Homo sapiens: one gene and its partners. The protein of the gene in region 2 interacts with the protein of the main gene of each other region in a biochemical or structural test. Each region holds a gene or a part of one and is shown on either strand. Other genes may lie near its edges.

What was found.
Region 1: the proteins of CDC27 (region 2) and ANAPC1 form a complex in vitro, tested with the Homo sapiens proteins (one study listed by BioGRID).
Region 3: the proteins of CDC27 (region 2) and HSF2 form a complex in vitro, tested with the Homo sapiens proteins (one study listed by BioGRID).
Region 4: the proteins of CDC27 (region 2) and ID2 form a complex in vitro, tested with the Homo sapiens proteins (one study listed by BioGRID).

The regions. Positions count from the first base shown.
Region 1 is NC_000002.12:111,873,829-111,881,921, reverse strand, and holds part of ANAPC1 (anaphase-promoting complex subunit 1), read left to right. Parts: intron 1-1,072; 5' UTR 1,073-1,096; coding exon 1,097-1,309; exon of another isoform or gene 1,310-1,429; intron 1,430-2,950; coding exon 2,951-3,112; intron 3,113-8,093. UniProt on the Homo sapiens protein: Component of the anaphase promoting complex/cyclosome (APC/C), a cell cycle-regulated E3 ubiquitin ligase that controls progression through mitosis and the G1 phase of the cell cycle.
Region 2 is NC_000017.11:47,136,560-47,144,652, forward strand, and holds part of CDC27 (cell division cycle protein 27 homolog), read right to left. Parts: intron 7,424-8,093; coding exon 7,324-7,423; intron 5,878-7,323; coding exon 5,670-5,877; intron 5,467-5,669; coding exon 5,294-5,466; intron 2,333-5,293; coding exon 2,180-2,332; intron 802-2,179; coding exon 593-801; intron 587-592; exon of another isoform or gene 1-586. UniProt on the Homo sapiens protein: Component of the anaphase promoting complex/cyclosome (APC/C), a cell cycle-regulated E3 ubiquitin ligase that controls progression through mitosis and the G1 phase of the cell cycle.
Region 3 is NC_000006.12:122,408,912-122,417,004, forward strand, and holds part of HSF2 (heat shock factor protein 2), read left to right. Parts: intron 1-3,461; coding exon 3,462-3,570; intron 3,571-3,725; coding exon 3,726-3,853; intron 3,854-4,613; coding exon 4,614-4,738; intron 4,739-7,309; coding exon 7,310-7,385; intron 7,386-8,093. UniProt on the Homo sapiens protein: DNA-binding protein that specifically binds heat shock promoter elements (HSE) and activates transcription. In higher eukaryotes, HSF is unable to bind to the HSE unless the cells are heat shocked.
Region 4 is NC_000002.12:8,677,445-8,685,294, reverse strand, and holds ID2 (DNA-binding protein inhibitor ID-2), read right to left. Parts: upstream 3,240-7,850; 5' UTR 3,130-3,239; coding exon 2,782-3,129; intron 2,453-2,781; coding exon 2,396-2,452; 3' UTR 2,389-2,395; intron 1,611-2,388; 3' UTR 834-1,610; downstream 1-833. UniProt on the Homo sapiens protein: Transcriptional regulator (lacking a basic DNA binding domain) which negatively regulates the basic helix-loop-helix (bHLH) transcription factors by forming heterodimers and inhibiting their DNA binding and transcriptional activity.

The DNA of each region.
Region 1 (8,093 bases), on a different chromosome or scaffold from region 2:
TGAGCCACCGCACCCGGTCCAGAGGTTTTAAAGAGAGGGTAGTGGGTTAAGGTATTGATTGGTCAGAGAATGAAGGATGAAGTCATAGGACAGAGAGATAAACCACATTCTCATGCTAATGTGGTTCCTTGATGGGGTCTTAAGACTAGCTTGCATCATCTCAAAAGTCTTAGGCTCCTAACATTAAAAATGCTGTCTATAGGAACATGGTATATATAAACAGGTACAGGAAAGTGGATCGAAGGACAATCTAATTATGCTTATCTGTACTTTTGTCTAAAGCCTGGCTGCTACCTAACCTTGTGATGAAGGCTTTAACAGTTCATCCACATTTTTTTAGTAATAAACTGTACTGTAATAGATTAATAATTAGATTAATTAGATGTAATAATTAATTAAAACCTAGTACCCTTAAATCTGCAAGCATAACTGTTCCATGGCTAGAGTTATTCATGCCTCGGTTCTTTGGGTTTCGACCAATAATTGAAATTGATTGTAGTTATATATTTAGGTGGGATTGGGGGTGTCACAGCTACTTAAGACATTTGAAAACCTATGTCTTTTGTAGATTGGTCAGCTGAAAGCAGTTCAACCTCTGATGAATTAGAGTAATGTGTGGTTTTTTATTGTTTTATTCCAATATGACAATGATCCCTTAGATGTACTTTTCAAATGAGGTTCTGGCATCTAACCAGAAATGACCTTAAATGTTGAAAAGCCATGTAGTTATGGGACCATAGAATACAACTTGTCTAAATACTTCATATATAAAGTATGGAAAAATTAGCGTATAGTAGTGGGAAACACGGGATAGGTGGTGCGGGACATAAGTACTTGTTGCATCTCAGTGGTTTCCTATAGTGGTAACTGTCAGTCTGTGACTAAAATGTGATAATTGCAACTGTCTGAATCAGATCTAGAATGCCCTTTTATGTTATGACCAACTTATATACTTACCAGTCTGATATAATTACTTGACACCCATGTAAGGATTAATGACTTGTGTGTTTATGGTATTTTTATTCTAGTTTTGAGTCTGGAAGCTGACCAGAATGTGTTTGAATTCATACAGAAATAATGTTGATATTTGGAACCCATGTCGAACTTCTATGAAGAAAGGACAACGATGATTGCAGCAAGGGATTTGCAGGAATTTGTTCCTTTTGGTCGAGACCACTGCAAGCACCACCCTAATGCTTTGAACCTTCAACTTCGCCAGCTGCAGCCAGCTTCTGAATTATGGTCTTCTGATGGTGCTGCTGGCTTGGTGGGATCCCTTCAGGAGGTTACAATCCACGAGAAACAGAAGGTTCCATTGAGTTTCCCATTGTGTTTTTGAAATGTAGAGTGATATAATCTACTTGTAATTTAAGGCTACTAAGATGCAACTGAGAGATCGGTGTGATGCCACTTCTAGAGTAGAGTTAAGGTGTGGTAATTTCAATAAATGTTGAAAATAATGACTTTATTACATTGTCATAGCGACTTATTTAGATACCCTCTATAACTTGTGGTTTTATTTATTTTTTATTTTTCAATTTTTTTGTTTGAGATGAAGTTTTGCTCTTTTTGCCCGGGCTGGAGTGCACTGGTGCGATCTTGGCTCACCGCAACCTCTGCCTCCCGGGTTCAAGTGATTCTCCTGCTTCAGCCTCCCGAGTAGCTGGGATTACAGGCATGCACCACCACCCCTACTAATTTTGTATTTTTAGTAGTGATGGGGTTTCTCCATGTTGGTCAGGCTGATCTTGAACTCCGGACCTCAGGTGATCCACCCGCCTCGGCCTCCCAAAGTGCTGCGTTTACAGGCGTGAGCCACTGTGCCCGGCCAACTTGTGGTGTTATAATGTGAGTCAGGTTCAGTAGTATGATTGTTGTCCATTTTAAACCTTTTTCTTTTCACTTAATATGTGGGGACCAGATTTCATGTTATCTAATGATTAAATGGTAGAGATTAGAAGTAGTCCCTGCTGCAGAAGATTTACATGTTTCTAAAGGAGAGAAGAAATGCCACAAAAGTAGGTAGAGTAATAGCTTTTTTTTTTTCCTGAGACGGAGTTTCACTTTTGTTGCCCAGGCTGGAGTGCAATGGCACAATCTCAGCTCACCGCAACCTCTGCCTCCTGGATTCAAGTGATTCTCCTGCCTCAGCCTCCCGAGTAGCTGAGATTACAGGCATGTGCCACCACGCCCAGCTAATTTTGTATTTTTTTAGTAGAGGCGGGATTTCTCCATGTTGGTCAGGCTAGTCTCAAACTCCAGACCTCAGGTGATCCACCTGCCACGGCTTCCCAAAGTGCTGGGATTACAGGCGTGAGCCACCACACCCGGCGAGTAATAGTTCTTAAGTAGAGGAATGAGATGTTAAGTGTGTGTCAGAAAATGAATCCCTCCTGCCTTATTCCATTGTCATATCCCTTTGGGATACTAAAATCTCGGGGAGGGAAAGCCTATGTAGTTACAAATGGAAACTTCTCTTTCTTCCATTCATTTTGGTGGGTGGGACAAAGGAAAAGAAGGTGAATATATATGTGATTGCGAAGCAGGAAGTCTGCATTTGTGTGTGAACTCCCCAAGTGATTCCCACGTGCACCTCACTGTCCTTTCCCTACCCTACCTCATATACTTAATATGTCCTTTTAGTCTCCCAAGCATGTGATTTGACTTTTGGAACTATAGAGAAGGTGTACTTTTTGTTCGTTTTTGTTTTTGGCAGAGTAATATAGAGGAATAATATAAAACATTCAATATAGAGAATTATTGAGTAAATTCTTCATGTAATTCTGTAGTGTAATGCATATATCCACATCCTCCGTTAATCAGTGTACCAAACTTTGTAGGAGTTGTGTTTGAATTGAGTCTTACTCCATGGGCAAATAAATTTTGTTCCAGATTTTTGAAGAACAAAAAAAGAGTGCTTGAATATGTTTTACATGTGTTAATTTTTAAGGAAAGCTGGCAGTTAAGGAAAGGAGTAAGTGAAATTGGAGAAGATGTGGACTATGATGAGGAACTCTATGTTGCTGGAAATATGGTGATATGGAGCAAAGGAAGTAAAAGCCAGGCATTGGCAGTTTATAAAGCATTTACAGTTGACAGTCCTGTTCAGCAGGTGAGTTGATTTGAATTTTAGCATTTGATTCACTATTTAATGCAATTAAAAAAAAGTTTTGTTTTAAAATTTAACAGAAATGATAAAACCAGCCTAATGATCTCAGCAGCTGGGTGTACGTTGTAACATGACATAATATAATGTGAAGATAATGGCAGGAAAATAAAAATTTAATTTTATTTTTATATCATCACTTTTTTTACACTCTTCTTTGTCACTTTAATGGTAATCTTTAAACACTCTGTCCTTATGTAATTCAATTTGTTATTGCCAGCAAAAACCTATAAAACATGAAGAGTACAGAAATATTTTAACACATGATTACTATAATTGATTGCAAAGATTTGAATAAATAAAAATCGTGGGATTCATAATGGTAGAGAGAAAGGAAAAAATCTGCTTTGCAGCCATTGCAGTTGGCTGTTATAACTAACTGTTCTGAAAGTTGATAATGAAAGGGAAAGAATTAAGCATTTGCCATATTTTTTCAGGAAGACATGCAGTTCATCTCCATTTGATGAAGGAAAACTTGTACTTAGAGAAGAATGCTAGCTAATAAGTGTAAAAGGAATTGTAGAATTAGAATATCACCATTTTGTAACCTCCAGTGCAATAATTGATTCCAACAAGGATTGTAAATGGATACTAACACTGTTGGTTGAAAGAATATTACCATGGCACCAACACATCACCCTGTGGATTACCTGGTAAATGTGAAGGAACAAATGTACCTCTACTTTGGAGTTATTTGTCAGTCTCCACCTCAATCAAGTGATTGAGTTTAGCATAATTAGTAGTGACATGAAGGAGTATTATGTGCTTCTAGCTATAATACAGAATGAAGTACATGATGTCATCTAAGTTTTCTTCCCAAAAATATGAATATTTAGACCTAACTTCCTATTTATAGGAAATATAGGCAATAGAGAATTATATTTTAAAATACCATGAGATAAGGAAATAGATAGCTAGGAATGGCTAAAGCTTTATTATTATTATTATTGTTTATTTATTTATTTGTTTTTTGAGATGGAGTCTTGCTCTGTCACCCAGGCTGGAGTGCAGTGGCATGATCTCAGCTCACTGCAAGCTCTGCCTCCCAGGTTCATGCCATTCTCCCGCCTCACCCTCCCGAGTAGCTGGGACTGCAGTTGCCCGCCACCACACCCGGCTAATTTTGTTTTTATATTTTTAGTAGAGCTGGGGTTTCACTGTGTTAGCCAGGATGGTCTCGATCTCCTGACCTTGTGATCTACCCACCCACCTCGGCCTCCCAAAGTGCTGGGATTACAGGCGTGAGCCATCATGCCCAGCCAAGCTTGATAATTATTAAAACTGGCTGATGGGGATTCATTATCCTATTCTGTTTACTTTGTATTTATTTGAAATTTTCCATTATAAAAAGTTTATAGTCTACATTCTGGTTTCTTTAAAAAAGTCACGGAGAAAGAAAAAAAGGTGGGGACTGTTCTACATTGAAAGAGACTAAAGAGACATCACCAAATGCAGTATTTTTTGATCCTTGTTAAATGAACTTTGATTGAGTCCTGGTTTTCTAGCTAAAAAGATATTTTTGGGGAAAATTTGGGAAAGTTGAAAATTACTGGCCAGTAGCTGATGTTAGAGAAGTATTATTTTTTTCTCAGGGACGATGATTTTATGGTTTTATAGGAGAACATCTTTATTTTTAGAAAAGGCATGGTGAAGTATTTAGGGGTGAAATGTCATGATGTGTGTGCAATTTATTTTTAAACAGTCAGCATTCCCATTCCGAAAATCCCATATGTACACAAATGCACACACACAAACAAATATGGCAAAATTTTCATGATTGTTGGATATAGGTGAAATATGTTTGCTGCATTATTTCAACTTTTCTTACTGAAAATTTTTATAACAAAAAGTTGGAGGAAGAACTAATGCATTTATTGTAGTTGAATTAGGGTTGACGAGGTTTTGGAGGCTTTGACTAATGTTAAGTTTCATTTTTGTAAATGCTGAAATCTTTGTATCTGGATACTGCTTCCTCCCACTCCTCCCGCCTACCGTTAACTATTTCCTGATGAGTACTGTATTCTATTTATTGGAAAGGATAAACTGAATCATTATTCCAACATTTGAGGGCATATGTGAAAGCATTTGTGTCCTGGAGTGTTGAAGCCAGTGATCTTTTTGATGGTAAATTTTTTCCCATATAATTCATATAGTTAGTATAGATGTGAAAAGTGCATTTGATGATATCCAAGTAGTTCTTTGCTTCTATATCTTCATCTTAATTTCTCCAAGAACAGTTGCCTATTTACTAGATTCTATGGAAGTGCAGTTAGATATATTATCTCCTTTATCTTAAGATCACTTGTAAGTGTAATTGTAAGATTTGGAATTTCAGTCTTTTGATCTGGAAAATATATTGTTACTTAATCTTCTTGCTAATATGGAGAAAGATAATTTTCTATTTTGTTTATGAAATAATATCAGGTATATGTGACTCAGATTTTATCTGTTCATTGTTTTACCTATCCTGCAAGTATTTTTTTTTTGGTTGTTCTTTTTATTTTTTCATTTATTCTTTTTGTTTTTTAATAGAGATGGGGGTCTCACTATGTTGTCCAGGCTGGTCTTGAACCCCTGGGCTCTAGTGATCCTCCTGGCTTGGCCTCCTAAAGTGTTGAGATTACAGGCGTGAGCCACTGTGCCTGGTCTTCTGCAAGTATTTAGTCTCACTCTGTTTCAGCCATTATGCTGGGGCTACAAAGGTGAATGTAGTTTCTGCCATTGAAGGACTCATAGCCTAGAAAGGAGAACAAACAGATCACCTGAAATGCTGTATTCTGAATGCTGTATAATAACTACCTGTCCACAGAGTGATGAGAGCCCAAAGGACTGAGTGCCAAAGGGAGGGTTTTTCAAAGAAGATGCTATTTGTGTTATAAAATGGTGGCAGAAGGGCATTCTAGGCAGAGGAAATCACAGCAAAAAGAATTATGGAAAAAGATGACTTTTTAAACTTCAGAATGGCTGTACACGAAGTGTGGGTGTGGAGAGATGCAAGTGGATGCTGGCAGTATACAGACCAAAGGGCCTTGTATATAAACCAAGGAATTTGGATTTTAAACTGTGTGCTGAAGGGAGCCTGCCAAGGATTTTAAAATGGAAGCGATCAATTTTGTGTTTTGAGAAGAGATTGCTTTGTTAGCAATATATATATAGGATTGACTGGAGAGGAGGGAGACTGTTGTCAGGGGCACTATTTTGTGACTGTTCAGGTAAAAGATTGGTGCCTTGGCAAAGAAGGGGTGATAAAGCAGAGGGAGATGTGGAAGGGGTTAGTGATCTCTTAGATATCAGGGATAAAAGAGATGTTAAAATATTTACTTTTAGAGGCTGAGAGGATGGGATTTCATCAAAGGAAGTTGAGACTGTAATCGGTGCATTGTAGATTTTGGACATTTCAGGTTGGAGCACAGCTCTCATGCATGGTTTTCTTCCTGAATTTTCATTTCTTAACCATTAAAATCTCCCACAACTCAACAATAAAACAAACTACCCAATTAAAAAATTGGGCAGAAGGACTTAAATGGACATTTTTCTAAAGATGCACACATGGTCAGTAAGCACATGAAAAGATGCTCAGCTTCGCTAATCATTAGGCAAATGCAGATTACAACCACAATGAGATACCACTTTACTAGGTTGGCTGTTATTAAAGAAACATAACAAATGTTGGTGAGGATGTCCAGAAATTGGAACTCCTGTGCATTGCTGATGGGAATGTAACATAGCTGCTGTGGAAAAGTTTGGCGATTTCTCAAAAAGTTACACGTGTAGCCAGGCATGGTGGTGCATGCCTGTACTCCCAAGCTGTTCAGGAGACTGAGGCAGGGGGGTCATGTGAACCCAGGAGTTCTAGGCTGCTGCGAGCTAGAATCATGCCTTGCATTGCAGTTTGGGTGACAGAGTGAGACCCCATCTCTTGAAAGAAAAGTTATACTTAGAATTACCATTATGATCCAGCAGTTCCAGTTCTAGGTATATGCACAATTGAATTGAGAACAGGGATTCACAGATACTTGTACACCAGTGTTTTCAGCAGCATTATTTATGATAGCCAAAAGGTAGAAACAACCCATGTCCATTGACAGATGAATGGATAAACAAATGTGGTATATGCTAACAGTGGAATATTGTTTAGCTTTAAAAAGGGATAAAATTCTGATACATGTCATAACATGGATGAACCTTGAAAACATTATGTTAAGTGAAATAAAATAGATATAAAAGGACAAATGTACAGTTTCACTTACATGAGATACCTAGCACAGGCCCTTTCATAGGGAAAGTGGAATAGAGGTTACCAGAGCTCAGGGCATTGGGAAATGGGGAGTATTGTTTAATGGGCACGGAGTTTCTGTTTGAGATGAGGAAAAAGTTCTGGAAATGTGCAGTATTGTACAAGCTCACAAATTGTACTAAGCTCGTCAATTTAATGTTAATGCTACTGAATTGTCTACTTAAAAATTGTTAAAATGTTAATTTTCATATTGTGTGTATTTGACCACAGTTTAAAAAAAAACACAAAATGCTGTTAAATAATAAGTGATTGCCAGGTATGTCAGTTAAAGTTTAATAGCTTTTCCTAGTTTATATTTTGTAAGATGGGCTTTTAAGAAAGGGAGGAGTTAGTTTTTCTAAAGACTTTTTCAAAAGTCAGTCTAGAGAGAGTCTAAGATCAGTTGTTTAATCTGGAGATTATAAAGTTTGAATAATCTTTAGTTTTGTAGAGGATATAGGGTTTAGTATGGTTTGAGCTACTATTTGAATTTTTGCTGCAAAGTTTCTATCTGGTAGATTTTTTGATTCTTGTCTTCTCTTTTTGTAAAATTTATTTTTTTAATTTAAAATTTTAATTCCTATGGATCTTTTCATAAAATTTAATTGTAAACATATTTTGCCTTTCCTTATCATATTTATCATTTATTAC
Region 2 (8,093 bases):
AGGACCAAACTTTTTCATATCTTATTCAGTTGATAACAATATGACCTAGGTAGTAATTTCCTATGTGTCTACTTATACACAAGTACAAAAAAGTAAAATAGAGATACTGCTAAATAAAAGGGTACACTAAGTTCTTAATAGTAACTCAATAAACCAGAACACTGTCAAAAAGCAGCAACTAGTAAATTTTTTCAATTTTTTTTCCTATTATCCAATAAGTGAATTATGCTATTCCTTTCCAATTTCCCAAGCACTTTTCATCCCAATCACCATTTCGGTGTTCGAAGAAAAAGCAACAAAGTAACAAAACTAAACAAACAAAAAACAACTACAGTATCTGCAAAAGTTTGGTAGAAGGCTGAAACTGTTGAGTATAAGGATCTGGTATTCTATTATCATTAGTTAATTTAAGAGTTTGTTAAAGACGTACATTTCATAAGAAAACATTTTAGTTAGAAGTTATTGACCAGTATGTACCATCCCTAAGTATAAGTAACCAAATTCATGATAATAAAGAGCTATCTAACAAGAAAAATTAGTAAGTACCAGCACCATCAATACGACTTTGTCTTTGTACTTCATTACCACTTACCATGCATTATAATGTCTAGGATTGACTCTGATAGCATTTCGAAAACAAGCTAATGCTTTGTCCAATTCTTCAGTTAAGACAAACTCATGCCCTAATAGAGTATAGGCATAAGCGTAATTTGGATCAACTTGGATAGCTCTCTGGAAGAATTTAATTGCAATATCATGTTCCCGTTGCAGACTGAAACAGTTCCCTGCAGCACACCAGGCCTTAAAAAAATGGGAACAAAAACCAAACAGAATTAAAATTTTACTTTTTCTAAAACCAAATCTATGACTAAAATCAAGCCTCAACTTAGAACAGAAAGACAAAAATGGAGGAGCTTCAGTAGATACTCAATTCTAATTATTCACAGATTCCATATTTGTGAATTTGTCTGATTGCTAAAATTTATTTGTAAAACCAAAATCAATACTTGCAGTGCTTTCATAGTCATCAAAAGGTATGTTCTCATTTGAGGTTGAATAATGTGACTCTACCTTCTTGTTTTAGCTCTCATGCAGAGATGACCAGGGACAGAAACTCTGTGGGCTAGTTTAGTGTAGTGCAAGAAGCTTTGGCTCTGGGGACAGTTGGACAGAATTTGAATCCCACTGCTGGCACTTTTAAGTAGGATGGCTTCAGGCAAGTCACCTCTGAACCTCATTCTCTCTCTTTTTTTTTTTTTGAGATCTGGTCTTGTTCTGTTGTCCGGGCTGGAGGGCAGTGGTGTGATCTTGGCTCAATGCAACCTCCGCCACCTAGGCTCAAGTGATCCTCCTGTCTCAGCCTCCCGAGCAGCTGGGACCACAGATGCCAGCCACCATACCTGGCTAATTTTTGTATTTTTTGTGGAGAAGGGTTTTGCCATGTTGCCGAGGCTGGTCTTGGAACTCCTGAGCTCAAGGAATCCGCCTGCCTCAGCCTCCCGAAGTGCTGGGATTATAGGTGTGAGCCACCACACCCAGCAGCATTCTCTCTTTTGTAAAGAAAATAGGATCTACCAGGATGAGTTATTTTTAGGATTCAAGATTATAATCCACAATCTATCTCTGTTTCAAACTCTCCATCACTCCCAGGAACATTGGTTCAGTAGCACTAATTCAGTGTTCATGTTGACTACAGAATTACCGCAAATAATGGGAGTTGACTGTGTTTAATTCTAAGCTTAGATATGTTACAAAAGTATCATTAAATATTTTTGAGATGCAATGAAATACAATCTTACAAGATTAGAGCATGTACATTAATTGCACCTATGTCTTACAATGACAATACTAATTTATTTTAATTTAAAATTATTAATTTTTTCAATCTATGTAACTTCTGCTCAACGAACCCTAATCTTGGTGACAACAGCAAATTTAACGTAGTCAAATCTCGATAAATCCTGAATGAAATAGCTGCTTTGTGATTTTTCTATTTGTGAATCTGCACCACACATTCTAGGACTTTCTCTTCCTCTCTGAGTCCCTGACTAGAGAGAGAGGAAAAAAAAGAAATAAGCGTGGGTGACACTAAATAGTGTTTGAATTGCTTGGTTCATCTCTATCTGTTGAGGGTGATCAAAAAGGTAACTATATAAGCAAAGTATTTTGGTTAACATACCTCTGGCGAATTTTTATCCATGTCTGTTAAGTCTTTTGACAGAACTGAAAGAGCAACATCTTTTTGAAGATGCCAAAGTGTTGTAGAGTAGATCTCCATGCCTTCAACTCTATAATTCTCAATCCTTCTAACCTCTGAGAATATTCTTTCAGCCTGAAATAAAAAAAACTAGTAAGAGAAAACAAGTTGATACAATTTATATATATACACAGGGAAAGCCCTGGTCATTATCTTCACAGGATCTAAATGCTGCCTTGTATTATGGTTTTTATGTGAATGAGTATTAACACAAGGACAAATTCAGCAATCTACTATGGCAGGTCAAATAGTGATGTAACCATATTGACAGTCAACCTAGTATTTATATACAAGCCATGGTAAGAACATGAACTCTGAAAAGGAAATTTGAGTTTCTACCAAAAAGACCGAAGAGAAATCTATACAAAGCTACAATTCAAAAGAAAAGTCAATATTTCCTTCTCAAAAACCTCATTTCCAAGTTTTAATAATGGCATTACAGAATAACTCTTTTTTTTTTTTTTTTTTGAGATGGAGTCTCACTCTGTCGCCCAGGCTGGAGTGCAGTGGCGCAATCTCGGCTCACTGCAAGCTCCGCCTCCCGAGTTCACGCCCTTCTCCTGCCTCAGCCTCCCAAGCAGCTGGGACTACAGGCGCCTGCCACCACACCTGGCTAATTTTTTGTATTTTTTAGTAGAGACAGGGTTTCACCATGTTAGCCAGGATGGTCTCGATCTCCTGACCTTGTGATCCACCCGCCTCGGCCTCCCAAAGTGCTGGGATTACAGGCATGAGCCACCACACCTGGCCAGAATAACTCTTTTAGGAAAGATGATGGAAGAATGATTTCTGTAACATAAAATCTATTTTTGAACAATTTTTACCGAGAGGTTGTGCCAGAAAATTTAGAGGGAAGAAACAGGTTAAGCTGGCTATCAATCCTATGGTTATAAATCCTATTGAGCCCTGAATATACACACCAATATTGTGTCTGCTAGGAATCATAGGCCCTACCTATTAATTATCCTTTCCTTTGCAGCACTCTCTTGACTTCAGGGTCTCTCCTCAGCTGCCTCATCAATTTTTTTCCTCATCACATTCACAGCTCCCAGAACTGTGTTTCTCTCCCTCTAAAGTTTGAGGATTTAGGTTATATAAAATCAGTTTCCTAGTTTATCAATTTACCAAGTTCAAAATTCTCAGCTGCCAGAAAAGGTCTAGGTAATAAAAAAAAAAAGAAAGGAAAAGAAATTTTCACAGTTTAGTTTATAATAAGGAATATCTGGACTATTCTTAATGAAATGAGTATGACAGAAAATAAGAGCATTTTAAAACTGAGTGCTTAATTCCAAGAAGTGGTCATATGATATATAGGAATAGCTTAACGATTTGTAACTTCCTTGCAATCTCTTAAAAGTTATAAAGGTAAGTGTGCAGCCTTGACCTGCAGGGCTCAAGTGATCCTTCCACTTCAGCCTCCCAAGTAGCTGGGACCACAGGTGAGTGCCACCACACCCAGCTAATTTTTTCATTTTTTTGTAGAGACAGGGTCTCACCACATTGGCCAGGTTGGTCTCCAACTCCTGAGCTCAAGTGATCCCCCTTCCTTGGCCTCCCAAAGTGCTGGTATTATAGGCATGAGCCACCACACCTGGCCAAGTTTTTCATTCAGGCATGGTAACAAGATAAAAGACCTACCAGCCAAATATAGGTAGGTACCTTTTGGTTTCAAAGTTTTCAGAATCTGTTGCTTCCTCTGAAAAATGATTATGGCATAGACAAAAAGAAAAATGGGAAAAAAACTCAGAAATTAAGTTGAAACAGAGGCTTTCTTTAATTAAATATTTGGGTCACCACTATAACTAGGGGAAACAATAAAATTCATTTATGTTAAAGTAGCTGTGAAACAATAAATTAGAAATAATTTTTTAAATGGCTTTTCCGAACACAGCTCTTGCCTGTCTGTGTATATGCTACATACCAGTAAAGGACCATAATCGAAACATGGGTTTTGTAGCAATGAATAAGACTTTCTGTCTTCAACTCTCTGTTCTGTACTATTCAAAATTAAATTATATGAATAGGTATCCTCTGTATGTATTCCCTGTGGGAAAGAACACCTTTCCCCTAGATCTTTGCATGGATCATGAAGGGAAGAGTAACCTTCCCTCTGAGTACATAAAAACAAAAACACCATACTTCATTGTCTCCCAGTTTCCTCACCATGCTTCATTTTTCTTCATGACTTATTGCTACCTGTTCTTATACATTTATTGGCTTATAATCTGTCTGTTGCTAGAATGTAAGCTCCACAGAGGCAAGAAATTGTCTGACTAGCTGTAATACAGAGTCTAGAAGAGAGTCCAGGATATCATATGCACAGAGATATATATTGAATAAATGAACTGAAAGCAAATTAAGCAAAAAACGAATCATATCAACTTTAATCCATATTAGAGATATTTTATTAATATATAGGTTTCTAAAAGGTTTCTTTTTTTAAGTTGGGGGTGGAGAAAATGCTTTGGGAAGAACTAAGGGGTAATATAAATTGGGAATTAGAATTTTCTTTGGCTTTAGGTTAATCATTCTCTCCTTTTCTGGTATAGACAGATAACTTAAGCAACAAATTTAATTAAAATCCAAAGAGTAAAAAGCCTTGTATTAAAGACATTGTGTCCTCAATTCAGCACAATTTTCTTTATAGCATTCTTCAAGCTTATAAAACATATTCGATGTCAAAAATTCACCCCAGTAATTAACTCTGTATATTGCAGAAAAATAAATAAATCCTATTACATGGTAAATATAAATATGTATTTTCAGACACAACTGAATAGGACACACTCTACGTAAGAATGTCTGGATGACTTGGGTCTCTATAAACCTATTCCGAGAAGTTGCAAAGAATTTAAATTACTCCTTAACACAAGAAAGAACTATATCTATAAATTATAAATACTGACAAAATAAATATATAGACATTACATAATAAATACTGATCTTTTAGATCTAGCCTTCTTAAGCATGGGCATTTATTTTAATGAAATTGAAATTATCTCTAGAAAGGCATATATAACCATTTTCTATACTTACTTGCATGTACTCTGAAAGTTCAAAATAGGCCCTTCCAATTTGGCACAGTACCCAACCAGTATTGTAGTGGTGAGAAGGTAGATGGCTCAAAATATTTATAGCTTCTTTGCAGTTGTATGAACACAAAGCTAAATAACCTTTCCCCATTTCACGAAGAAGGCTCATCAAACCTTCTAGGAGAAAACAACATAGTAAACAAAGGAAAAAACGCAATAAACTAGTCTGCTTCTCTAGAAAAGGTAATTACAAACTAATCTATTAAAAATTCCAACATCTATATAAAAAACAATGAAGGTACTGTAATGAACATAAAGAAATTTACTTAAAATAAGTACATAATAAAATACAAAGATAATATTAAGCATTTAAAACAGACCTGCTGCTGCTTTTTGTAGATTAAAGGCCTGAATCTGAGGTGTGATTGTGGATATTTTCCCTTCTGAAATGATGGAAGAGTCCAATTTTGTAATTTCCAGGCTATCATTTATGTTAGGTTGAGTTATTCCTCCTTTATTAGTTTTACTTTTTGTTTTTCTGTTTGGGATTTTAGGTGGAAACTTCATTTTTAATTTTTTGCTATTCTCCTGTAAAAGGGAAGAAATTTCACACCTGTTATACTCATGTATTTTAGATTTCTCCTCAGCCCTTTCTCCAGTATTAGATATAAAATAAATGTACAATCTTGATTAATTCTATATTTTTTTCAGAAGAGAGTTTATAAAAACAAAGGTCTTCAAAGTCATTTAATTTTAAACACAGTAATTCTGAACATAAATTACATTAACTAATAGTGACTAAGGTGTGTCAGCATTAAGTGTAGCCCTCTTGTGAAAGTATATCAAACTCTCATTTATTATTTAAAAGTAAGAAAATAAGTAGATGTAATTCTCAGCTCACCGCAACCCAACCTCTGCCTCCCGGGTTCAAGCGATTCTCCTGCTTCAGCCTCCCGCGTAACTGAGATTACAGGCATGAGCCACCACGCCCGGTTAATTTTTATTTTGGAAGAGACTGGATTTCTCCACGTTGGTCAGGCTGGTCTCGAACTCCTGACCTTAGGTGATCTGCCTGCCTTGGCCTCCCAAAGTGCTGGGATTACAGGCATGAGCCACCGTGCCCGGCCTTTGTTTTGTTTTTGGGACAGGATCTTATTCTGTTGCCCGTGCTGGAGTGTAATGATGTAATCAGAGCTCACCACAGCCTTGACCTCCCCAGGCTCAAGTGATTCTCCCACCACAGCCTCCCAAGCAGCTGGGATCAAAGAGTACTACCATCCCAGCTAATTTTTTTTTTCAGAGATGGGGTCTTGCTATGTTGACCAGGCTGGTCTCAAACTCCTAAGCTCAAGTGATCGGCCCACCTTGGCCTCCCAAAGTGCTAGGATTACAGGCGTGAGCCACTGCGTCCGCCGGGTCTCCAGTTTTTTTTAACTTTTATTTTCAAATAATTTTAGACTCACTCTTCTGCAAATGATAACATGTGACATAACCATAGTATATCATCATACCCAGGAAACTGAAATTAGTACAATATTATCAGCTAAAGACCTTACATGGATTTCATCAGTTTTTATATAAACCCGTGTGTGTGTATGTGTGTGCATAGTTCTATAAAATTTTATCACGTGAATGGATCTGTGTAATCAACCACCACAATCAGGATACAGGACTGTTGTACCACCACAATGCAATTCTTTTGTGCCATGATTTAATAGTAACATCCTCCCTAGAGGCCTAACTCCTAATAATCACTGATCTGTTGTCCATTCCTATAATTTTGCCATTTCAAGATTATTCCTATGTCATTTTTAACTTGAGAAAAAAAATTTTTTAATTAAAAAAGAATATTATATAATATTTACCAAAGGACTAATTAACTTCACAAAAATCATAGATGGCCCTCTAAATTAAAACATTTTAAAATTCGAAATAGTCTCTTTGTTAACTTATTAGGAATGGAGTCATCAATGAACAGAAATGTTAGCAGGCGAAGCATTAAGTAAATGTGACATACAGAAATCTTTAAATTACCTTGGTTGTGGAGCTGTCACTAGTAAAGAGTCGTGAACTTCTTCGAGGCAGTGCGTTTGGGGGAGATGTAATAGTGGGGCTCAATACCTGAGGTGTTGTACTAAAAAAAAATTATAAAGGAAGACATTAATATTTTACTTGATTTATGACCATTAACCATTGTTTCAATTTGGGTATATTTTAAAAATATACATTAATTATATAAGTACTCTAAAGTTGATGAATTTGATCAGTTCTTTTCGTGGTTTCTCTATGAAAACACAGTATTTAAAAATGAGGGACTCGGACTGGCTTTCCTGCTTCTCAGCTTGCAGATGGCCTCTTGTGGGACTTCACCTTGTGATCATAAGTCAATAATCCTTAATAAACTTTCCTTCATATAAAAAAATAAAAATAAAATGACTCGTTACTACAAAATAGTAAAGATTATAGCATAGATCTTCACTCTCTCTGAAATTCTTAATTTGAACTAAAAATAATCCTCATAAAACTCTGGATCGACAAATGATAAGCACATCTATAAATCAATTATTTTTACCCTTCATTTGCAACTACAACAAGTTAGAGAAAAAAGAAAAGACAGTTGGGCAAAGATAGTCTAAATGTGGGGTATTTGTTAACAAGTAAATACCACTAGAACTACTAATATTTGAGAAGTTATTTCCCTGTAAATTCAAACAGCTATATCAAAGGCTTATTCTCTTTAGAGCGAAAGGAGCCTCTGTACATTTTTACTTTAAAGGCAAACCCTGAGATATGAGAATTTCAAT
Region 3 (8,093 bases), on a different chromosome or scaffold from region 2:
ATGGAAGACACAAGAAAAGATTGACTTCCGGGGAAACAGGAAATGGGTTTAGAACATACTGAGTTAAAGAACATAGTGTAAAAAATGTTAACATTTTAAATTGAAGTGTGTAATTTGAGATGATCAGGGACAGAGCTGTAGATGTGTTTATTATAAAATAAAGTCAATAATAAGATACCCTACTGTGGATGAATTCTAAGGAAAGAATATGAATGGTGCCACGATTAAGGATAAAAACCTGGAAAATACAGCTACCTCTTATTTGATAGGTGGAAGAAAATTGAAAGGAAATATAAGAGATAAGAGACTCAACAGTGTTTAGCATCAAAGCCCAGAGAGTCGAACATTTAAGGAGGAGATTGTTAGTTGTACCAAATGAAATGCCACAGAGAGGTGTAGGAAGATCAGGACTGAAAAGAGGGCATTGAATTTGATATTTGACATTTTAGAAATCTGGTTTCAGTCGAGTGAGGGAACCAAAAGCAGTTTTCAGTGAGAGTAAGTGGATGGTCCTGAATTGGAGAAGGGGGGTTTAAAATACCTGCTTGTTAAATTTTGCAGTTAAGGAAAAGACAGATGGGTAGATTGAAAAAGAAGGTATAAGAGGGAAAGTTCTTTTAAGATAGGAAAAGACGTATGCATTTTAAGCATTTTAATTTTGATAATTACCTAGTTGCCAATACTGGTTATTGTCAAGGGTTGTAAATTTAATCTAATAAGGGAAAATCATTATTTGTTTTGCTCTACATTCTTCATTTATGAGTCTGGGTCTCTTCTAAATTTCACAATGTGTTTTTCATCAAAATTGTGTTTCTGTTAGGAAGAAAGTAGAGGAGAGTAGAGATAGAGTAGGAAGCTAGCAGTCTCCATGGATAAATTTATATTTTATCTATATGTCTTCTGGGTTTATTATGTCATGTCTCCAAAAGCTTGCTTGTAAAGAGTAAGATGACATCGAGCTCTTATTTTTCTTCCCAAATGGAAAATTTCTTAATCCTTTTCTTTCCTGATTATCCCCCCATTTGAATGCCATCTTGACTTACTACCTGGTAAATTCTCAGATAGATTTGCTGGTTCATCTGTCCTCTCTAGTCAGTCCATTCATCTATGTAATCACTTCTTCTTTTGTACTAAATTGTTAACACTATAATTTTATAATCTGTATTGGGTAGGGTTAAAATACTCCTCCCCATTGTTCTCAATATTTTCTTTCCTGTTGTTATGTAATTATTTTTACAAATGAACTTATGTACCTAACATTTGGTTATGATAGCATCAATTCATCTTTACTCCACAAATCATTTTTTTAATTAAGACAGAATTTAATGTATTGGTTAATTTAGAGAGAATTGACACCTTTACAATACTGCATTTGTCTTCCTTTTGTATTTCTATAGTTTTAATATTTTTAAAGTTCCTGTATATTTTTAAATTTTATTTTTAGATACTTAACATTTTTCTATTATTATTGGGATATTTTATTCCATTTTAGTTTCTAATTTTTTTAATTGTGGTAAAATATACATAACATAAAATTAACCATTTTAAGTGCATTAAGTTAGATTCACATTGTTAGGCAACCATTACCACCATCCATCTCCAGAACAATTTTTATCTTTCCACACTGAAACTTTATACCCATTTCACAATAACTTCTAACTCCTTCCTCCCCGCAGCCCCTGACAACCACCATTCTACTTTTTGTCTCTGAAATTGGCTATTATGGAAACTTCATATAAGGGGAATTGTACAGTATTTGTTCTTTTGTGACTGGCTTATTTCACAGCATAATGTTTTCAAAGTTCTTTTCATGTTGTAGCTTGTGAGAATTTCCTTTTTTAGGTGAAATAATATTTCATTGCATGTATATACCATACTTTATCCATATATATTTCACCATGTGTTGGTGGATACTGAAGTTACTTCTACCTTTTGCCTGTTGTGAAAAATGCTACTGTGAACATGGGGTACAAATATCTGTTCAAGTCGTTGCTTTTATGGTTTTTTTTGTTTTGTTTTTTTGTTGTTGTTTTTGGGTTTTTTTTTTTTTTTTGAGTATATACCTAGGAATGGAATTGCTGGATTATATGTTCTTTGTTTAATTTTTAAAGGAACTATCATAGTGTTTTCCACAGCAACCACACTATTTTAACATTCCCACCAATAATGCACCAATATTCCAATTTCTCCACTTCCTTGTGAACACTTGTTTTATGCGTTTTTGATAATAGCCATTCTAATGGGTGTGCAGTGGTATATTGTTTTAGTTTTGATTTTCATTTCCCTAATGATTTGTGTTACTGACCATCTTTTTATTTGCTTATTGGAAGTTTGTATATCTTCTTTGAAGAAATATCTACTCACATCCTTGCTCGTTTTTTATCGGGTTGTTTGGGTTTTTTTTGTCTTTTGTTCTTTTTGAATTTTAAGAGTTATGTCTATGTTCTGGATATTAACTCCTGAGGTATATGATTTGCACTTTCTTCTTTCCATTCTGAGGGTTGCCTTTTCAGTCTGTTGGTAGTCTTTAGATTTGATGTAGTTCCATTTGTCTATTTTTGCTTTTGTTGCCTGTACTTTTAGTGTTACATTTAATAAATCATTGCCAAGTCTAATGTCATGCTCTACTATTGTTAAAAGTTTCTTTAGCTCTTGTGTTTAGGTCTTTGATTGATTTGAAGTTAGTTTTTATATATGTTATCAGATAAGGGTCTAACTTCATTTTTTTGTATGTAGATATCCAGTTTTCCCAGCACCATTTGTTGAAAAGACTGTCCTTTTTTTATTGAATGGTCTTGACACTGTTGTCAAAAATCCTTTGGCAGGGTTTATTTCTGGGCTGTCTATTTTATTTCATTGATCTATATGTTTGTCAGTATGCCAGTACCATGCTACTTTGATTACTTTATTTTTGTAGTGTTTCCAGGTGTTTGTTTTTTGTAGAGAAAAACACTAGTGACTTTTAATATTAATTTAGTAACCACGTATCTTACTGAATTCTTAAAGGGTTTTTAAATTGATTTTACAAAGATACAATTATGTCTACTATGTCTACTGCAAATAATTATAAAATGGTACTTCCTCTCAAAATCTTTTTTTTTTATTTTGGTCTTAATTGCACTAGTTTTAAAACAATGTTAATTATGCTGTCTACATAATTGTATTTCATTTTCTCATTGCTGGTTTAATGGAAGTTCTAATATTTCACCATAGAGTGTGATGTGGCATTTGGTTTGAGATATGTTCCTAAACTTTTGAGGTTGACATCAAAAAGCTTAGTTGCAATTTGTTGCTTAATTGCAATTTTGTTTCTTGTTCCTGTTGTCAAGAATAGAATGTTGGTCTGAAGACATCAAGGAGGGACTGGACTACTCAAGACAGTTGTGGGATGTATAAATATATCACCATGTGTCATAGGAACTTAACTAATTTACTTTTTCTTTTTTTTTTTCCCCTTGCAGAATGGCCAAAGTTTTCTGGTCTTGGATGAGCAACGATTTGCAAAAGAAATTCTTCCCAAATATTTCAAGCACAATAATATGGCAAGCTTTGTGAGGCAACTGAATATGTGTGAGTATGGACAGCAGTTTATTGGAGTACCATTATCAGCTACTGATGAAGCCATTTTTTTTCCCATTAGGGTGGTAAAGGAAAATTATTCCATACAAGCACCACCAAATTTTGACTTGTTTATTTTAGTCATTTGAATTTTGAATATTTTTCAGATGGTTTCCGTAAAGTAGTACATATCGACTCTGGAATTGTAAAGCAAGAAAGAGATGGTCCTGTAGAATTTCAGCATCCTTACTTCAAACAAGGACAGGATGACTTGTTGGAGAACATTAAAAGGAAGGTGAGCTATTGTGAACGTGAGCTAATTAGGGTATTGACCTGGAGTGTGCTTGGCCAAGATTTTTATTTCAGCTGTTGAAAGTACAGAAATGCACAACTGTTCCTTGTTGGGATGAATTAGGATAATAAAGTTTTACTTGTTTCCCTGTATTTTTTTCCTAAGTTAGCTTAAAAAAAAAAAAAAGTTTAAGTTCCTGCTAGAATATGAGCTCCCTGGAAGACTTTTTCTATAGTTTGTAATTGTACATCCAGTACCTACAATAAGTCTCTTCTAATAATATAAATATGCCCACATAGTAGGCATTCAGAAATACATTCAGTAATATATTTTTTAATGCATAATATCTTTTGGTAAAATAAGATATTTTACTAAATCTGTAAAAGGGGTGGACCATGAAAGAAAATGGCCTAGCATGAACCTTTTACTGCATAAATTTAATTAAATGTGGAATGTGGTAATAAAGAGGCTTGGGGGAAATTGCAAGGAGCTTGGCATAAGGGGAGAATAAAAGACTCTAAGATATTCCTGCTTGCGGAAACTTTTTAACATTAAAAAAAAATTTTTTTTAAGTAGATTATTCCTTGCGTTCTCTCCCATTGAGCTCTGAAGTTTATTCTTTCCCTAGCATTTCATCCCGGGCTTTTGGAACCAGATCTCACTTCCTGAACAGGCTACGAAAACCTCTTCTAATAGGGAAGCTTTGAATTACAATCATGGGTGTTTACTGTTTCTTTGATTTTCTAAATTTACTTTTTCAAAGGTTTCATCTTCAAAACCAGAAGAAAATAAAATTCGTCAGGAAGATTTAACAAAAATTATAAGTAGTGCTCAGAAGGTTCAGATAAAACAGGAAACTATTGAGTCCAGGCTTTCTGAATTAAAAAGGTAAAGTGTTATTTCCAAATATAATTTTAATCTGGGAATTGGGTATGTGTCTATGTGTGTTGAGTTTGGAGGTTGTCTGATGTTTTATTGTAAGTACTCAGATCACTTTGTTGAAGCCAAGATCAAAGGTCATTTTTCTGCAAGTATTGGTTCCCTTTACTTTGATTTGTGGCCACTGACTTTACTCTAATATTGTTTTAATTATGATAGTCAGAAGAAGATATAAACCTAAGCGTATCAAAACAGTTTGATGTATAAGTCTTAGCAATAAACAGTAGGTCTTTAAGATGATGTAGGAAATATGATTCTATTTAGGTTAGCTCATATGGTGCTCATAGACAATGAGGGCATACGACATAAAAACCCTGTATGTTACCCATCCTTTGTTTAATGGCTGTCTCTTAAGATTTCTTTGTGTGGACTCTTAGGAAAAAGTAGGACACAAAAAAATCGGAAAACGATGCAGGAGAGTTGCCATGCTTGATACTTATTTCGTATAGACTTGGAAAAGTGTTATTCAGAGCTTTTATCTACAGAAAGATGCTTCGTTTTATTTTACTACATTTCTTGGTTACCATTATTGTAACTTGCCATACTAATAACTTGTGTATAGAGTAGATAGTGTATTACTCTTCTTAGTAAGTAGCTGGAATTTTTCTGTATCCTAATAGGTGCCAAGGGCTTAAGAGTGGTTACTTTACATATTCTCTCTTCCATATCAGATGTGAGACGTTACTTTAGTTAATCATAACTCAAATATCTTCATTAAAAGAGGAACCTATAACTTTGATTTCTTTTTTAAATAAGCTTTAGGCTTTCTCTTCTTGTGTATTTAACAACTTGTTTACTGTATGTATCTTGTGTATACTAGCTGCTCTTTGACCCAGTTCCTTGGGACCACAGTTTCAGCCTTTAAAGAAAGTGATCCCCAAATCATTTTTTGTACCTTAGAGGGAACTTTCTTCTCCTTATCTTTTTGTTTGTTTGTTTTTGTTTTGAGACAGTCTCACTCTGTTACCCAGTCTGGAGTGCAGTGACTTGATCTTACCTCACTGCAATCTCCGCCTGCCGGTTCAAGCGATTCTTGTGCCTCAGCCTCCCTAGTAGCTGGGATTACAGGCATGTGCCAGCTAATTTTTGTATTTTTAGTAGAGATGGGGTTTCACTGTGTTGGCCAGGCTGTTCTCAAACTCCTGACCTCAAGTGATCCGCCCACATCGGCCTTTCAAAGTGCTGGAATTACAGGCACGAGCCACCGCACCCAGCCCTACTTATCTTTATTTAGTAAGCAGATAACAACATTTTTTAATTTGAATCAGAAAAATACAGTAGTTATTCAGTAAATATTAAAATCTCCTTTGGTATACCCTTATATGTAAATCTCCAGTTCCTTTTATATTAGTTTGGATTAAAGAAGATGACTTGTGGAGAATAACAAAAGATGGAAAATTAAAGCATTTAATAGGTATTCAGCATTCTCCGTGCTGCGAACATTTAACAACATAATGCAGTTTCAATTAAAAAAGGTGAACGAAGAAGAAGCTATTCATATTTGGCAAGTTATTAGTTTATTATTGGATATGCTTTTTCAGAATAACATTTTAGTGGTTTACATATGCTGTTGTTTGAGATAGATCTTAAGATAGTTTTAGAATCTGACAGACTTTAGTTTGATTTCAACACTTACCAAATTATTTGTATGATCTTGAGCAGTTCCCCTCAATTCTCTGTACCTCAGTGTCCTCATCTATAAAATAGAGATGATGACTTATTTCTTGGTGGTTTTTAGAGAAATTTTAAATAAGTAATACACATAAAATGTCTAGCATAGTGCTTAGAGTATAGTAAGTGCTGGGTATATATCACTACCCTTTATTTCCTAAGGTGATTAGGAAGGCCTGAATTCACTTGGTAACCACAGTTGAAAGATTAGCTTATTTTTTTTTAAGCAAAAAATAATGAGCCAGATTGTCAAAAGTAGTAAATTGCCAACTACTATATTGATGTAGGCATATGTCTTAAGTTTCTGTGTATCTATTGTCATGAGTAGCAGATACTACACTTAGGAAGGAATGATTCTGGTGCTGGGTGCGGTGGCTCATGCCTGTAATCGCAGCACTTTGGGAGGCCGAGGTGGGTGGATCACCTGAGGTCAGGAGTTTGAGATCAGCCTGGCCAACATGGCAAAACCCCGTTTCTACTAAAAATACAAAAAAAATTAGCTGGTTGTGGTGGCACATGCCTGTAATCCCAGCTACTTAGGAAGCTGAGGCACGAGAATTGCTTGAACCCTGGAGGTGAAGGTTGCAATGAGCCGAGATCGTACCACTGCACTTCAGCCTGGGCGACAGAGCAAAGCTACACCTTTTTTTTAAAAAAAGAATGATTCAGGAGTTGTGTCAAGGTAGTTGTCATTCCTATGTAATTGAACCAAAGTTTTCTTGGTCTCATAAATACATATAGTAAAAACAAGTGTAGTTCAGTTGTCTGGTATTCTTAATTAAAGATACTATGGTCTGGTTTTTTGATTGATTTTTTTTTTGTTTTGTTGCTTAATAAATTATAACATAGTGAGAATGAGTCCCTTTGGAAGGAGGTGTCAGAATTACGAGCAAAGCATGCACAACAGCAACAAGTTATTCGAAAGGTAAGAAGCTCTTTTCCCCAGGACCATAATTTGCATTTGTTTAATGAGTACTGTTTGTGACCCAAAAAGGTCTTTATTGAGTGTCTGTGATTGATCTTAGTTTCTTACATATTGGATGCACAGATAGAAGTAAAAAATGAAATGAAATTAAGCCAAGTGTTACACATTTTTAATAAAAAATTTCTCACTAGCTAAAGATGGTTATTCCATACTCGCAGATAATGTCTCAGTAGCTTTTAGTAAATGATCTTTTGCCTAATATAACAATTTTGAAATACTTTATTTTTATGAGCATAATGAATACACTACCAATTTCTTTTAAAATTAGAAAACATAGCCTTACTGGTTTTTTTTGTTGGTTTTTATTATAAAAGGCATAGTTAAGGTCTCAGAAGATAAATGACAAATATTTTCAAATCAGTTGACCAAATTATGAGTTCAGAAAATGATTTCTCAATGTATGCTGTTATTAGTCTGTGGAGAAAAGCAGTTAACATAGTGTTGTAAAATGAATTTTAGATTTTAGTATCTGAGCTGAAAATTTAATAGAGGAGTTGGAATCCCTCCGTTTCATTGTGTCCTTGTGATTTAATCTTTGCATATCAGCTTTCATTTGCTAATAAGAGATGAAACATAGTAATTAAGGCAGCTATTTTTTGCTCATGAGTAAACTAGACTCTGAGTTTAAGCAACAGGTTTTTTGAGGGG
Region 4 (7,850 bases), on a different chromosome or scaffold from region 2:
TCCGCCCCAGGTGAGCTGCTGCCCCGCCCGGATCCCTTCCTCCCCCGGTTCGCGTCCACCTGGGACCCGCCTTCCAGAGCCTCCCAGCCCACCTCGCGCCCCGGGACTGAAAACGCAGACCAGTCTTGAGCACGTGGCCACCCGCGGTCTTTGGCTGGGAAAGGCTTCTGCCCGCTGCCTCTTCCTTCCAGTCCAGGGCGGCAGTCAAGGCTGAGGGCGATCGAAAAGTCCGGGAAAATGCGCCCGGCCCAGCCCCGTCTCCGGAGGCCCGGAGGTGGGTGGGGTGTGGCGGGGGGGCTACAGGTGTGGACGCAGGCGAAGCCAAGGAGGCCTCAGGAGCCCGGGGCCAGGTGACAGCTTAGTTCCCTGTGCAAACAGTAACCCTCGGGTGTTTCTGCCTTCCCTTAAACCTGAAATCATGTTCTGAATTCTGTACAGCCTCTTTTCTTCTCCTGATTAACTTTCATTTACTCCAGAGAAGCGTCTTAACGCCCACTCAGACAGGTAGTGCTTCCACACTCCCAGACTCAACTCATTCTTGGCTTTAAACTCAGCCCTGAGGCACAGAACCAAGCTTTCTCTTAAGGACTCGAGGCACTTCTGTGCTCAAAGCCTCCCCAGTCCCTGTCAACTCAGCCCTCTGCCTTACCACACATCTGATAAGATTCTCTGTACACAAGTAAAAGCTTCAGGGGTGCTGCTGGTGGGGGGATGAAGGAGAAGGGGATAAAGAAAACAATGTGTGTGTGTGTGTGTGGGGGGGGGGGCCGAGAGGGGGAGACAGGGAGAGAAAAGAGCTAGTGAATGCCAGAGATCTTAAAAACCACTCGGAATTCAGGTATTGACTTCAGACATGTTTTATTATAATCTTATACAGTCTACATAAATTTGAACTTGTATTTATTTGGGTTCAGTTATAACATAGCATAATAAAAATCAAAGCACTGGTCCTCTGAAATAAAGCAGGCAATCACCATTCAATAAACACACTTGATTTATTTTGTATAAAAGGGTTAAGTTTACAACTAAACTTTTATAAAAAGTTTAGCATGAATAAGTACATCATTACACTTTTGAATGCAGAAATAGACATCTCTGCCACTATACAAGAAAACTCTAATTAAAGAGTTCACAAGGTTTCACTCAAATAGATATATTTATATATAAATATATACACAGCATTCAGTAGGCTTGTGTCAAAAAGGTAATTTCTGACCAAAAGACTTCATTTAAGTGACTGAATACTGGATCCTTCTGGTATTCACGCTCCACCTTTGAAAAAAGGCAAAGTCTGCTTAGATTGGGCAATTCCTTGTGATTTTAACGTTTTCGCTCCCCATGGTGGGAATAGTATATAAAGAAAACCTTCCAACTGCAGAAAGGGCATTTAAAAGTCTTTTTCATAAATAACGAATATCACAGTCCAAGTAAGAGAACACCCTGGGAAGATGATCATTCTTAGTTTTCCTTCCATTTTTTTTTTCTTTTTAAAAAGGTCCATTCAACTTGTCCTCCTTGTGAAATGGTTGAAAAATAAGTTCAGCACTTAAAAGATTCCGTGAATTTGTTGTTGTTGTTGTTGTGCAAAGAATAAAAGAAATCATGAACACCTGCGAAAGAGTGGGGGAGAAAGGCATGTTTAAGAGAATGTAACCTAAGGGCAGAGGCGGGCGACTGGCGCCGGGAGGAAGCCACAGTTTGAACATTTAACCAAACACTCAAAGATTGGGCAAACCCTGGCGTCCAGATGCAACACACACACTCGCCTCGACAGCGCAAATTAAACATTAAAATAGCAGAGACTCAAGGGAAAAACTTCCCAACCCAATCTCCTATTTGGATCTCCAACAGCAGTGCTACAGGCGCCAGTCTGCTTCTCGTAACAATTATTTGATTGAAAACAGCCCTTTAGTTAACAGATAGGGAAGTCTGGGATCCCACATCACAGGGTTGAAGGCACAGGGTAGCAATCCTCAACTAGCCCAGAGAATCCCAGAGGACTATAGTTTTAGGGAAGGAGGATCACTATGGAATTTGTGGCGGTAAGATTAATTACAGTGGAGGTTAGTACCTCATAGTACCAGAGGACTCGTAGGAAGATCCAGGGCATTACATTTGCTACAAAGCCAATACACACGTTCCTCGGCCGCCTTCGTAGTAAGTTATTGGCATCATTTCCTTTTAAAGGAAAATGTTCTGTGATCTCGAGCACCCAAAGCTACAAGCTCCTTCATGTCTAGTGAGACAATGTAGTACGGGTAACACCGCGAAGTAAGCATGCATTTACCAAATCAGACATTTTATAGATACACAAGCAAAAACACATGCGCGCGCGCGCACACACACCGAGGGGCAGTTTACCCACGGGTGGCACAAGCAAACACTCACCGCTTATTCAGCCACACAGTGCTTTGCTGTCATTTGACATTAACTCAGAAGGGAATTCAGAAGCCTGGAAAGAAAGAGGATAAAGAGTACGAGGTTAAGACAATGTTAAGTAGAAAGGGTTTTTTTTTTTTTTTTTTTTTTTTTGTAGTCCACAGACCAGCAAGTTCCATTAAACACGTTTATGGTAACAATTCAGATTTAAAGACAGACGCATTAACATGTCAGAACTTACTAGCAATTTCACGCACAGCTCAATCTACAGCAGATTCTGAAGAAAATAAAGTTAAATAGCTCATACGAAAGTCACCGTCTGGGCTACGGATCTCCTAGTGACAGCCCAGACGACCGCGGGAGTGTGCGGCGGCGGGGCGGGGACCCCGGAGCAGGTCTTACCTGCAAGGACAGGATGCTGATATCCGTGTTGAGGGTGGTCAGCGGCGTCCTGGACGCCTGGTTCTGCCCGGGTCTCTGGTGATGCAGGCTGACAATAGTGGGATGCGAGTCCAGGGCGATCTGCAGGTCCAAGATGTAGTCGATGACGTGCTGCAGGATTTCCATCTTGCTCACCTTCTTGTTCTGGGGGATGCTGGGCACCAGCTCCTTGAGCTTGGAGTAGCAGTCGTTCATGTTGTATAGCAGGCTCATCGGGTCGTCCACAGGGGTTTTGCTCCGGGAGATGCCCAGGCTGTGGTCCGACAGGCTGTTTTTCCTAACGGACCTCACGGGACTGAAGGCTTTCATGCTGACCGCGAGGGAAGGCGAGACCGGGAGGGAGCTGGCTGCCCTGAAGCTCAGGCCGCCGCTGCCGCCTGCTGAGCTAGCTGCGCTTGGCACCGGGCTCGGCTCAGAATGAAGCCCGAGCCCGGCGGGGCGGCTTTTATCCGCACTCGCCGGGGCCACACGCTGGAGCTTCCCTTCGTCCCCATTGGCGGAAGGTGGCACGTCTATCAAGACGAGCGGGCGCTTCCATTGGTGGGCGCGGGCGCGGGGCGTGGGCTTGGTTCTTCCGCGTTCGCAGCCAATCCCCGCGGGGTGGGCGGGGCGCGAGCCCAGCTGGGGTGGTAAATAGAGTACAGTACAGTAAGTGCGGGGCTGGCGGGGGGCGGGGGGCGGGGAGCGGCGGGCGGGGGGCGGGGAGGAGGGAGGCGGGAGGAGGGAGAGGAGGAGGGAGGAGGAAGAGAAGGGAAGATGGGGGAGGGGAAGGGGGAGGGGAAGGGGGAGGGGAAGGAGGAGGGAGAAGGGGGCAGACCCTGGGCGCCTAAATATGCATTCTTAATTCTAATTCCAAGCGCGCGGCGGGACCCTTGCCCTGGGGGTGTTCCCAGACCAAGCCCTACACACCTTAGAGCTGTCGGCAGCTCTAAAATCACAGCTACACGGGCGAGTTCAGCACCGCAGGGGGGAAGCCACAGTTCACTGCAACCCATCGGAGGGAGAGCGTGAGGAAAGATAGAAAGCATTTCAGAAGAAAGTGAAAACGCAAATTAGGTTGTCACTGAAGAGTCACGTTTGTAGAGTGAGTTCGTCTCTTCAGATAAGGAAAAGTTATGTTAACACAAACAAACCACCCACGCACGCATTCGACGACAGGCTTAGTGTGGGCTTTTGCAACCCGGAGCAGCGCGGGAGGCATTACTGTAAACTCAAGAAAATGAGTACTTATTGCAAACCATGCCCAACCTCACCGGTCGCTAAGGAGCTCTCACAGGCAGGGCGCTTTCAGGGTTCCTTTTCAAGAAGGAGGCAGGGCTATTATAATGATCGTATTAATCGGAAATAATTAGGAGAATTTGCATATTGAAACTACATTTACATACACTGCCCTTGAAAGGCTGCCGGTCTGTGCCCTTCCGTGTAGGTGGCAAAGTAATGTGATTAATTATGCACTAATTGTGATTTCTGGTGTCACATTCCAACACCTAGAGGAGTTCCAAAGCTTTGTGACAGATAGGTGGCCCTAGCCATTGATAGACATCTTCACACTAAGGAAAAAAAAATATTCTGTCATATGAGGTTTGGAATCTTTTCAGCACTAGTACTGAATACGGGTTCAAGGTTTTTTTTTTTTTTTTTGGCTGAAAATCTTTTAAGAACTCGTTCTTTCAGTCTAAGTTTTAAAAAGTTTGCAGCTATTTACTTAAATACCTTAATTTTCACATAATTGTAGCTTATCTAGAATTCTGTTTTGACCACAGTGTGTCAGTTTCTTGTTTTTGAAAATATTTGCTCCAGAAAACAATGAACTAGAAAACTCCAGGAAAGGCAATATTCAAATCTTATTTACTTTCTGCCTCAATCTCTACCTCCTTTGCATTTCAGAAAGCGGAAGGGGCAGGCCTAGAAGCTGAAAGAAAAGCTCGATAATGGGGAAACAGTGTTTTTTCCTTCAATTAATGATTAATTTCTCAGCTGGTGGGGCCAGCAGTCTCTGACCGTCACGTGACAGCTATGCGCCCCATGACGCCTCTCCAGGGAGGCAGAGTGGGTGGCACTGAGGTGGAGCTCACCTTCCTGAAATTCAGCCCCCTCAGTTTGGAGGAAGGAGGTAAACTGTTTCCTGTCCAGCCAGAAGTTTGCGGAGGGCCTTCCCCAGGCCAGGCAATGCTGCCTGCGACTCTGTCCCTGACAGCGTTGGATGCACCGTATCTCTTCTGATATTAAGTCTGGAAGTGATTTACTATCCGAGTCCTCCCACAGTTCGAGCCTTTTGATGTACTTTGTGTGCATGTGTTTCTGTCACATACGTGCCACAGTGGAACAGATTTTGTTTTGACACTATTTTGGTTCATGATGTTATACTTTGACTATTTTACAATAATAGCCAATGTAAACAAACATCTTTGGGATTCTCAAATTATTACTTATGATTCTTGGACATTGCAGCTCTTCGATACTGACGCATTCCTAGCTTTTTCCAAGGACACCGTATGTTAACATCCGTGCCAGCCTCATTATCCCCACAGCCAGGCTCTGGGTTGGGCGGTAATGAGCATTGTGCGGTTTCACTTTACACTTTGCAAAGTTGATTAAGGCAGTGCCTTCTCCCATGATCATTTTTGTACCCTGATGTAGTAAAATGGCTAAATATGGTGAAAGTTTTCTGGTGTTTCTTTCTTTAGCTGCCATGTCAGAGTCCAGTCTGCCTGGCTGTGTTGAATTCGATTCTATTGGCACGCTACCCAGTTTTACATTCATTTAAAGATCATTTAAAGGGGATTACGAAGCTGTATAAGTTAATGATTTAAACGAGGCCTAAGTTACTAGTGTGTCTGTTTCAGCACGCCCAATATGAAATCACCTTAAAAATTGCTTTCGTGGGGGAAAATCGTGTCGGAGCATTTTCCAAGTGGGTTTAAAGGCAAGTCAAAATCTGTCAATTGGTGGCTTGGGTGGGTTTGCATTTGAGGCCTCCAAAGTTCAAACGGCCCCAGCTAGAGGGAGGGCTAGATCCGCGGGCGGTGGGAAGGTGTGCAGGGCTTCCGCTGGTGGGTGTTGGTGCGGTTCCCCTCGACTCCCCACCGGGACGCCCCCACCCCGTGGCAGCGACAGACCGGCCCGTAAGGTCCCCCAGCCTGGCTCCAGGACTCACTCACTCCGCCTCTAGGGCAGGCCCCGCGGCGGCTCTCGCGTCCGGGCCCCTCGCGGTAATCAGAAGCAGCTCCGGGCCGGGAGCTCCGCGCTGGCCAGGCCGCCTTTGCCACCCCCGCGTGATGCGCCGGGGGGCGGGAGGAGCCTGCGGGGGCGGGGGGCGCGTCTCAAGGTCCTCCCTGCACATCTGGCGCAATGGGGAGCGTTCGCCTTTCTTTCCCGGGTTTTGTTCTCACAGCTGTGTCCATTCCGCCCGTGACCCCGCGAGTGATCCCTGACAGGTGATGAATTGGCGGCGGCGGTGGCGGCGGCGGCGGCGCGCGGGCCAGGCCGCGGCGGGGCCGGAGCCGGAGCCCCGGAGCAGACTCTCTGGCGCCAGGCGCGTGACGCCGCCCATTCACGCCGCCCTGCAGCCTTGTCCTCGCGGCGCCGCTCAGGCGGCTGCCATGGCAACCGCGCCGTCACTCAGCGCGCGCGCCCAGCTGATCAATGCCTGCGAGGCCCGGCAGTCCCAGGCTCGCCCAGGCCCGGCCGCCGGCCCGCGCGCACCTGCAGACGCTGCACGTCTTAAGTTTCGAGTGATTTGGGGAAGGAAAGAGGACCGAGAAGAAAAGAAAAGGGCTCGGGGGGGGGGGGGGGTGGGCGGGTGAGGGGCGGAGGAGAGGACGAAGGAAAAAAGCCGGGAGAGGGAGAAGAAAGAAATCTTCCTTTTGCAAAAGGAGGCATAATGTGGCTTAGAGGTTGCCAAAGCAAAAGGTTTTGCTTTATTTTGTTTTTGCAACCGAGGCGTTCAGGGTGGGGCTGGCGCGAGGGAAGGGTGGATGGGGAGAAGGTCACTGTCTTAGCACATGGCGAGATTTATTTACTCCTTTGGATTATTTCGGTTTCTCGCCGAATGGCTTTGATCCTGGATTCCTAAAAATACCTTTGAAAGATTGAAAGACTCGCCCCGCCCCCCCAACCTCCACACCGTCTTACTGCCTAACTCCTCGGAACCCTCGGAGGTTGCGCATAAACAATTTTTTCTTCCAGAACGGCCCCCCTCTCCGCCCTGGGGGAGCCGGGAGGATGTGCAGCCCCAGTCCTCCTGCTCGGCGGAGCCTCGCGCGCGCAGAGCCTAGCGCGATTCGCGCCCTCATTACTACTACAAAGCGCGGGCCAGACCAATCCCCTTTCTAATGCACCATTTTCGACTGAGAACATCAAGAGGCCAGAAACTTCCAAGTCAGCTTGCAGACGCAGACGCCTCCTGGGGTCCTGGCTTTAAGAACCAGATGCCAACACTCCCGGACAGTTTATGGCATCCGGATCCCTCAAGGGTGCTCATCTGCAGTTGAGAGTGTTAGTAGCAATTATTTATCTGTCCTGGAGAGGAGTTCCTGAACATAAATGTCCTCTGCTGGCCCTAAAGCTGGGGGCGGAGGCTGTGTGTTGTGGGGTGGGGGTTGGGGGGCCGAATGTTCCCGGTCCTGTTATCTGGTTTAGCAGCATTTGTTGTGGTTTTCGAGGAAACGGCATTTGGATTACATAAGGATTCAAGTTTTTGCTGTACTTGTTTATTTAATACCTTGGCAAGAGGGAGCCCTTACCCTGAAACCAGATAACCGATTTTGGGTTTAAAACAGCCTTAGATGAAGGGCCACTCGAGGGGAAGAAAATGAGCAAAGCCACAAAAAGCAAACAAGGGAATGTTTATTTTTCTCTTTTTGGATATTTTTGAAGACCTGCCTAACCTCTTACACTTCTTGTCGCATACAGCTAATAAATGGCATTAACAAAGCGTTTCAGCGACTACCACGGCTTCACAGTGGCTCCTCCCCTGCCCTGCCACCATTCAGGCTGTAATTCCTTCCAGGATTCCCGCACCATCCTGT